Regions from separate parts of the Homo sapiens genome. Here region 2 is linked to region 1. The links come from fine-mapping of genetic effects on gene expression. A gene starts in region 1. The other region holds a variant in brackets. All regions are shown on one strand. Distances are from middle to middle.

The links.
Region 2: its variant is fine-mapped to the expression of MAT1A in unexposed skin (GTEx, PIP 0.97).

Annotation. Positions count from the first base shown.
Region 1 is chr10:80,287,504-80,291,893 of GRCh38, reverse strand. MAT1A (methionine adenosyltransferase 1A) reads left to right here and starts at 2,236. Exons shown (of 9, transcript NM_000429.3): 1 at 2,236-2,561. The coding sequence starts at 2,471. RefSeq lists an enhancer at 2,107-2,401.
Region 2 is chr10:80,252,851-80,257,240 of GRCh38, reverse strand. LOC100130698 (a long non-coding RNA gene) reads right to left here. Exons shown (of 6, transcript NR_136612.1): 6 at 1,833-4,390. Among named protein-coding and RNA genes, the nearest start is that of MAT1A, 35 kb to the left of the region's middle. RefSeq lists enhancers at 1-388, 389-889, 3,355-3,474. The variant G/T (reference allele first, on the strand shown) is at 1,844.

The sequences.
Region 1 (4,390 bases):
ATATTCACATATACATACATATGTATACATACCATAATCTATTTTTGTTCAGAGGAAAATCATATGTATGTAAATAGACTGCTTAATAATATTAGCTGATATTTATTAAATTTGTATTGTGTGCTAGCACTTTGTCCAATACTCATCATACCTAAATGACCTCATTTAGTTCTCAAAATAACACTAGGAGGTAGGTAATTATTTAACCCGCTTTACAGCAGAAGAAACAACAGATTAGAAAGGTTAGGAAGCCTTCTCCATGCTGCATGGGAGGTTACAGGCAAAAGTTGGACCCTAGTCCAGAAGCCTGCACTTCCATCCACCATGCTCCGTGTACTGCTTCTTAACATTTACTTGCTAGAAGAATATAAGGCATCCTAGTATTTAGTTGGGGTCTTAAATGAAACTCATACTTGAGATGAGTTTTTAACGAGGTGCCTCTCAGATCCCTCCCTCACACCCTCAATTGGCATCCAGGCTGCCAAAGCCCCCTGCACACATATCTGTGTAACAGATCGTCTCCCCACCCTGACGCCTTCCACCCCATGGTGCTGTTACTTATGGAATTCAGAAGGCAGCTACTGCTTTGTTTTCTGTCTTCCTGATAACTCTAGGAACCTTGAAGAGTACCTGCTACTTACACATCATCTTGTTCTTAAATCAAATTTGGACCATAATTGTTATCATACAATTTTAACTGCTAAGGTCACCTAGTTCTACAGTTCAAATTAAACATTAGCTCATATTGCCTCTAGGTTTAAAACTAATGTACCCAGAAGAAATTTACTAAGGGCCAGCAATGTTGAAATAGCTTAAGTGCAAACAGAGGAGTCCTGTGTGCTGGCAATGACAAGGCGATGTTGTCTAAAGTCCCTATTTGATTCCTCGTTTGTCCATCCCTTCCCAGTGGCCTTTTCCTCTCTGAACTTTCAACAGTCTTGTGCCTAAGCACTTCAGTTCACTCCTTGTTAAATGCCGTTGATTGGCTATGCATATGTAACATCCCTTACTTTATTCCAGAAGAGGTCACCTTAATACTGCTTTAATTCCCTGAAGGGATGATGTTTGGTCATCAGTTAGCAAAACTCAAGCTTTGGAGCACCAGAATGTGTGCCAGAAAAAATTTTTCCAAATGCTTGATAATAAACTCAGAGGGGGGTTTGGTCACCAGAATTGTTAGGTGAGGCTATTGCTTCCTAACTTTTGCTTCCCACAGTCCAAGCTTTGATGCACAAGGTTATGGTTGATTACTTTTTATTGCATTCTAGTGGGAACTGGTTTCTCCACCCATCCTCATTTTCTGTGGTCTCAATTCCCCATTGTTCCTTGGGTCTGAGGATGCAGCTGGATCTGAGAGTGTGAGACGCTGTCATTTAGTACATGAACTAAAGATATAATCCTGTTTACTACTTTTTTTGGTCAAAGCAAAAAATAATGCAAGAGTTATGTGAACACGATGTTTATTACATGTATAGAACTGAATATGTAGATGTTTATAATCCGGAAGCTTTGGGAAACTGGACTTTGATAATTTCCCTGTAATGAATCCATTTCTCAAAAGCATTTTTTTCTAAAAAAAACACACACACACACACACACACACACACATTGTTCTCTGTAACCTCCCCAGATAGATACTTTTTAAAGATCTTGCTTGTTAAAATGCCTGCCAGCCTTTTAGAGAAGTTGACAGGTTAGGTGGTTTCTGTTAGCAGAAACACGTGGACTCAAAGCTTTTCCTCTAAAATGAATCTGTTGTGTAACATCACAGCTGGCTCAGAATACAGGTGCGTGCTCCTGCTCTCCCTGAGAAGATAGAATGGGAAGAGACCAATCCAGATGAGACGCAGGGGAGGAGGGGACACCCAACAGCAAAGGCACTGTTGCAATCTTAGCCTAAACCATATCTCTGAGAAAGAGTTTCTTGTTGCCTGCTTGTATCTCTGGGTGATCACAGACCCCTGCTCTCCAAGGTGGGTTGTGAACTCTGGAGCACTACCAAGATTGGCTAAGAGCTGAAGGAGAGTCCCAAAGGAGCTTCAATTCTGCAGAACTATACAGCCTTCTTTACCTTACCTTGACCAGGTGCTTAGAGTTTGGAAAGTCAGGGATAAGAATTGAAATTCCTCCAGGTAAGAAGACCCCCCTCTTAGGAAATGGACTCCTCCAATTTTCTCACATGATTTTTCAGGCACTTTCGCTTTTCCATATATAGGAGTCGCTCAGGAGCAAGCTGTGGCAAGCTGGAGGGAGGGACACATCCCGTGTTCCATCCACTCCCTCCCTTCTCAGCAGTCCTCGCCTGTTCTCACGTGCTCACAGGCAGTTAGGCAGAAGTGATCCCCGTGGCTCTGCCAAAGACAAGCCTGTTGGGTTGAAAGAAGAAGAAGAAGAAGAAAAAAAAACTCAGGCAAAGTCACAGCCTCAAAATTGTTCACTGAAAGAAGCGTGAGTGGAGAAGTGTGAGAAGATGAATGGACCGGTGGATGGCTTGTGTGACCACTCTCTAAGTGAAGGAGTCTTCATGTTCACATCGGAGTCTGTGGGAGAGGGACACCCGGGTAAGTAGGCTGTCTTGGACTGACTGGAAAACGATCATTCCAAGCCTATACTGAGGGAGTCACTTACAAATGGTTTTAATTTGACACATAATAATTGTGCATATTTATGGGGTACCGTGTGTTGTTTTGATCCATGAGTATAACATTTAATGATCAAATTAGGATAATGGGCATACCCATTGCCACAGACATTGACTACTTCTTTGTGGTGAAAACATTCAAAATTCCCTCTTCTAGCCCTTCAGTCACCCTACTGCGCAATGGAATGCCAGAGCTCATTCCTCCTATCTGACTGTAACTTCGTACCTGTAGGAGTCACTTTTACCAGAGCTCTTCAGAGCAATGTGTGTGAGTTACCAGAAGGGATCTCTAGAGAAACAGCATGGAGTAGTTTCATAAAACAGTCCCTCCTGATGAAGCCGTGCTGTGGCCCACCACCAGCACGCCAGCACAGTGGGTCCAAGACAGGGAGTAGCAGCTGGCTGGCTAAGAGTATGACACATGCAAAATATATGATCAGGTCTTAACTTTTTATATGTATTTTTTTTTTAGGAAAGCTTTAATCTATTATCCATGGCCAATTTAAGTCAACAGGGAATGTTCCTGAAACAAGACCATGGGTGACTAAATTTTGCATGTGAAGCATGTGCAACTTAGGCATGAAAGCCTGCACCCTGGTCACTGCTGGGGTAGACCTCTAGGTGCTGGGGACTCAGTAACGTTCTCTAAGAGCAGAATAGAAGACCTTCTAAACAGGAAGAAAATTTAGGCATTGATTTTGGTCCCTGAAAAGTAGGTAGACTGTGATGTGCGGAAGTGAGAGAAGCTTCCTTGATGACGGTGAGAACTAGGACCAGGACATTCAGAGCCTCAAGTGTAGGACAGTGGTTCTCAAACTTCAGGGAGCTTCAGAATCCCCCAGAGGGCTTGTCAAGACAACAGAGGGCTGGGCCCCACCCTCCAGAGTTTCTGATTCAGTAGGTCTTGGGAGAGGCTCGAGAATTTGCATTTTTGACAAGTTCCCAGGAGATGCTGATGCTCTGGGGTGAGAACCACTGCTCTTGGAGACCCCTGGGGGATAGATGTACAGACTTCTATAGTTAAGTCCCTCTTCAAAATTCATTCGAGTGTTTGCTAACTTATTGCCAAGTCTGCCTTTTTCCATCTTCCTTGCTCTTGTTCTTCCTCAAAGATATTTATCTTTCCTACCTTGTAACTTGGCTTTGGACACCTCAGTGCACTACTCCTTCCATATACTTTAGCCAGTGGTTTTTGACTGGTGGCAGTTTTGCCCCACAACCCCCAAGAGCATTTTGTACTGTCTGGAGACATTTGCAGTTATCACAACTATAGGAGGTGGGGGTAAGGTGCTACTGCCATGTATTGAGTAGAGGTCAGGCACACTGCTAAGCATCCTACAGTGCACAGGACAGCCTCTCAAGAATTATCTGGCCCAAAATGTTAATAGTGCAGCTGTTGAAAAACCTTGAATTGAATTGAGTTTTTTATGTGACTTAGCTCAGTTCAATGTAAATAGCCTCTTTCATTGTGCATAACTGTATAAAGTATCTAGGTTTACTGTATTTTCAATCTCAGATACATTGCTGATTTCTGACACATTCTGATCAGCTCCATGGCTATGAGCCTCATGTATAGGTTAGGAGAAAGATTCACTCCACCCGGAGGAAGTGGGTTTTTTGGCATGCAGCGGCTAGTGGTCCCAAGAATGGTCCATTGTGCGCAGCAGCAATGTGCTCAGAGGACTGAGAATGAACGTGCCAGCCAATCAATTGATTGTTTTGTATACTTAATGACAGCCAATCAATTTG
Region 2 (4,390 bases), 35 kb after region 1:
AAAGGGAGAAGCATTTAACTCCATGTTCCTGTCTCCATTGGTTGAGGGCTGTCCTGTGGGAACAGGGCAGGAATCCACCCGGGGTATGTGGATCTGGTGACAGCCAGCATGTGTGGACTGTTTGCCAGAGCTGTGGCTGGAATCTGGAGCCAGGTGAGAACAGATGAGGCTGGACAAAGGGTCTCAGCCTGGTTCCCAGGTATGGGACTTGACAGCCACCTAGCTGGCCAGGATGGGAAATGCAGCAGGGACCAGGCAGCGAGGGAGGCTGCTGGGATCCCCACCCCACAGAGGAGGCAAACCTGAGACAGGGCAGCCCTTTCCCCTGGAAGTCCTTGCTTCAGGGACAGACCCAGAGGCTCCACACAGCAACCCAGCCACAAGGGAGGCCTGCGTGTCCCCATGTGATGGGCTTTCATGGCGCTGGGCCTTAAGGAGGTCACAGCCTTGGAGTGCAAGAACTCCCATGGCTCCTGAGTCCCAGGACTACCTGCCTTTGCTGTCCCCTCACCCAGGCCATCTGCCCCCCTCCACCTCCTGCAGGCTCACCCTTTTGTTCCCTGCTTTCTCTTTCTCTGCTTCTCTCTGCCTCCCTCTTTGTCCTTCCTTTCTCTCTGTGACCCTGTCCTCAACAACTCTTTCCCTACCTCTATTGTGCTGTTTCTCTGTGATTCTCTCCAGCCTCCTCTCCCTGTCTCAGTCCTCTCCATCTCTCTTGTTTCCTGTCTTCATTCCTCTCTTCTCTGTCTTTTTTTCTCTGCCTTTCCCTCCGTGTGTGGATCACTGGCCAGCTCTCTGGACATCTCCCTCCCTCCAACTCCCTTGGTTCTCACTGTGGGTCCTTCTGTCTTTGTCTCTTCCAGCTTTCCTTTTCTCCCCCTGGGCCCAAATCAACTTCTCTCCATGACTCCATCCTCCCATCTCCATCTCTCTCTCTCTCTCTCCTCACCTTCCACCTTCTCTCTCTCTCCCTTCTCTCTTTCTCTCACTGTTTCAACCCCTCTCTCTCTATCCTCCTTGTCTTTCTCCTTCTCTCTGTCCTTCCCCTCCCTCTCTCATCCCTTCTCTCTCTTCTCTCTGCCTGTCTCATCCTCTGACTGAACTCACCCCTGCGTTCTCTACTCCTCTCCAGTCCTGCTCAGTGAGCCTCTCACCACCGACCTCTGCCTATCACACAATTTAAAAATTACAGGAAGATGGTGGGGGGCACAGGACTTATGGAGAAATGTCTACACCCAGCTCAACTTCCCTTAGAGCTGCCTGGAGTTGGTTCTACCGAGGGCAGCTGGCTCAGTGGGGAATGGGCTCTGACAAACCCTGAGTCTCTGCGAGGCCCCTCACAGGCTCCACAGCCACTGCTGGGCCCCCTTCTATTCCCTGTCAGAAGTTGGCCACCTCATGGGGATGTATTACTGTCTATCTGCTCACAAGGCACCACTGGCAGTCACTAGGAGCACAGTGACTCTTTCTAGAATGAATGAGCACAACCTCCACCCGTGGCTGGATACAGGATATTCCCCCACCCCAGAAGCCCCCCTCGGACCCTTCCCAGTCAACACTACCCAAAGGGTAACCCTGCTTCTGTGTCCAGCAAGGCAGTATCTGCCTGAGTTTGAATAGTGTATGAGGAGTCACACCTGGTATACCCTGGGGTGTGAACTGGTCCTCCAGGAAGCGGACACCCAGAAAGATAGGACTGCAAATGTTTCTAAAGGGAAACACTGGAAATGAGAGAGAGAGGAGGAAGCATGGGACATGGAGCATCAAATATGGTAGAGACTTTTCCAAGATATCATGGCCCAGGAGACTCTTCAAATTTCAAAATTATCCTGTAAGGTAAAAA[G/T]ATTTCGGTTTATTTCCAGGTGACCTTCTTTTGCCCAATATACATTTTGTCTTCTATGAAATATCTGTGCCCCTGCTGAATACTTCTGTGTGTGGCCATATCTGTGTCTGTATGTCATGGAGAATAATTATCCACAGATCACAGATACAAATCTCAGAGTTTAACTGTGTATGCATTTTTAGGATCTCTTCATCTCGTAAGGATCTGAATTCTAATCTTGGAGACAGGGGCTTTCCCTTATCTTTTGAAAGAGAAACTGGAAATCCCAGAGCCTGAGCTGCTACACCCTAAGGTTTATTAAATGAACTTCAATGAACACCTTTTGCTGATCTTCTGAGTGGAAATATTTTCATTTAACCAGCGGGAGGGGTGAGGCTCTACCATCTACCAGCTATTTTGCAAGATGCCTTCCTTATGAGCTTGGTCTCCCTGTCCTCACCATGACCTCATAATCGCATCATTCCCAGCTCATTTCTGAGAAAGCTGGGGCTCTGAGCTCTACTGAGAGTTGGTGTCTGGGCTTAGGCAGCAAAGACACAGGGAAGGGGAAGCATTTTGCCTGCCAAGGTTGGGAGATGCAAAGCTGAGAGTTGTGGGTGGGAAGGAGAGGGTGCAGGAGATCAGAGTAGGTCACAGCAGCTCAGGATTGGCCTTGAGTTTCCAGCCAGAGTTGGCCTCATTCTGAAGGCCAAGGCCGCAGCTCCACTGAACCAGACCCATCCTCATTGTTAGTCTCCTTAGGCCGTGAAAACTCAGGGAGACAGGTTCCCCTGACAGAACCAAGTTAAAATTTTCAGACCTCTAGGCATTCATTCACCCCGATCTAGAGCCTTCATGCACCCAGGGAAAGAATCATCTTCCTACCGATAATGGACTAAAGGCTGTAGGGCAACAAGGAAGTGCTGGGGTGGTAATTTCCTGTGCACAATGTGGTATCTGAGCTCCCATGGCAGCTCTGTGTGGCCCTCACCGCAGCCTCCATGCTCCTGCTCACGCTGCTTGCCTGGCTAGGAGCAGCCTTCCAGCTCTACCTGAGTTCAACAACCCCCCATGTCACACCTCCCTGCTTCAGCTTTCTCTTCCACAGCCTCCTGTTTACTCCCAGGAGATTCTGTCTCCTCCTTCTGCACCCTGTGTCCCTTCACTTGTGTTTCCATTGGGCTGGTCAGAAGCTCTGTGCCCTTCAGTGTGGGTCTCTCTGCTGCAGCACACAGGATGCCCTGCCAGCCAGGGATGGGTCTCATCCCTCACAGAGCTGGCCATATGGCCCAGGTTCCACACAAGCCTGCAAAACTTGTATTTCTAGCTTCTATAAATAACCTCTGGCTGGGCACAGTGGCTCACACTTGTAATCTCAGCACTTTGGGAGGCCAAAGTGGGCAGATGGCATGGCTCCAGGAGCTTGAGGCCAGCCTGAGCAACATGGTGAAACGTGGTCTCTACAAAAAGTTAAAAAATAAAAATAGCCAAGCATGGTGTTGCACACCTGTAGTCCCAGCTACTCTGGAGGCTGAGGTGGAAGGATCACCTGAGCCCTGGAGACGGAGGTTGCAGTGAGCCAGGAGTGCACCCCTGCACCCCAGCCTTGGTGACAGAGCAAGACTCTGCCCCCACCCCTTAAAATGAAAAAAAACTCTTTCCTCATCTACAGAAGATACCTTCTGCCAAGGTCATGATGAGGAAATAATGCAACTGACTTGTACTCTCAGAAACTTGAGCAAAGTGACCACATCCTCAGCCAGTGCAAAGCCCTGCAGTACAATCTGTAACATTTCTATTCATTCAGAAAGGGAAAGATGAATCCATTTTGCAACTCAGTTCATACTGTTCAGATAAATATACCAAGTAGTACATGTGGAGGTCGTGGTCGAGGTCCTACAGGCAACAATGGGTAGGGGAGCTGGTTGAGGTCCTGGAGGAGTTCAGATAGCAGAGGCCAGCCAAGTGGAGGAGGTGGCAGATGTACTAGAGGAGACCCTGGTGGAGGAAGTGGCTGAAGTCCCAGGGACCACAAATGGAGATTATTGAAGTAACCGAGGAGATTCATGTGAAGGTGGTTATTGAGGGGCCAGACGCCACCCAGGTAGAAGGGGTGGCTGAGGATCCAGAGGTTACTAAGTGGAGATGTAGTCGGAGGTCCCAGAGGCCTCACAGAACAAAAAGGTAAATGATGTCCTAGAGGAAGGCAGCTATAAAAGATGGATGAGGTCCTGGAGGGAAGACACATGCTGGACGTGGATGAGGTCTGGGAGGACCAAGAGCTGTAGGAGGTGGATGAGGTCCCGGAAGACAGACACATGTAGCATGTTGATGAGGTCCCAGAAGACTTACAGCTCCAGGAGGTGGATGAGGTCCCAGAGGACCAACAGCTGCAGGAGGTGGATGAGGTCCCAGAAGACCTACAGCTGCAGGGTGTGGATGAAGTCCCAGAGGACCAACAGCTGCAGGAGGTGAATGAGGTCCCGGAAGACCAACAGCTGCAAAAGGTGGATGAGGTCCCGGAGGACCACCAGCTGCAGGAGGTGGATGAGGTTCCGGAGGACCACC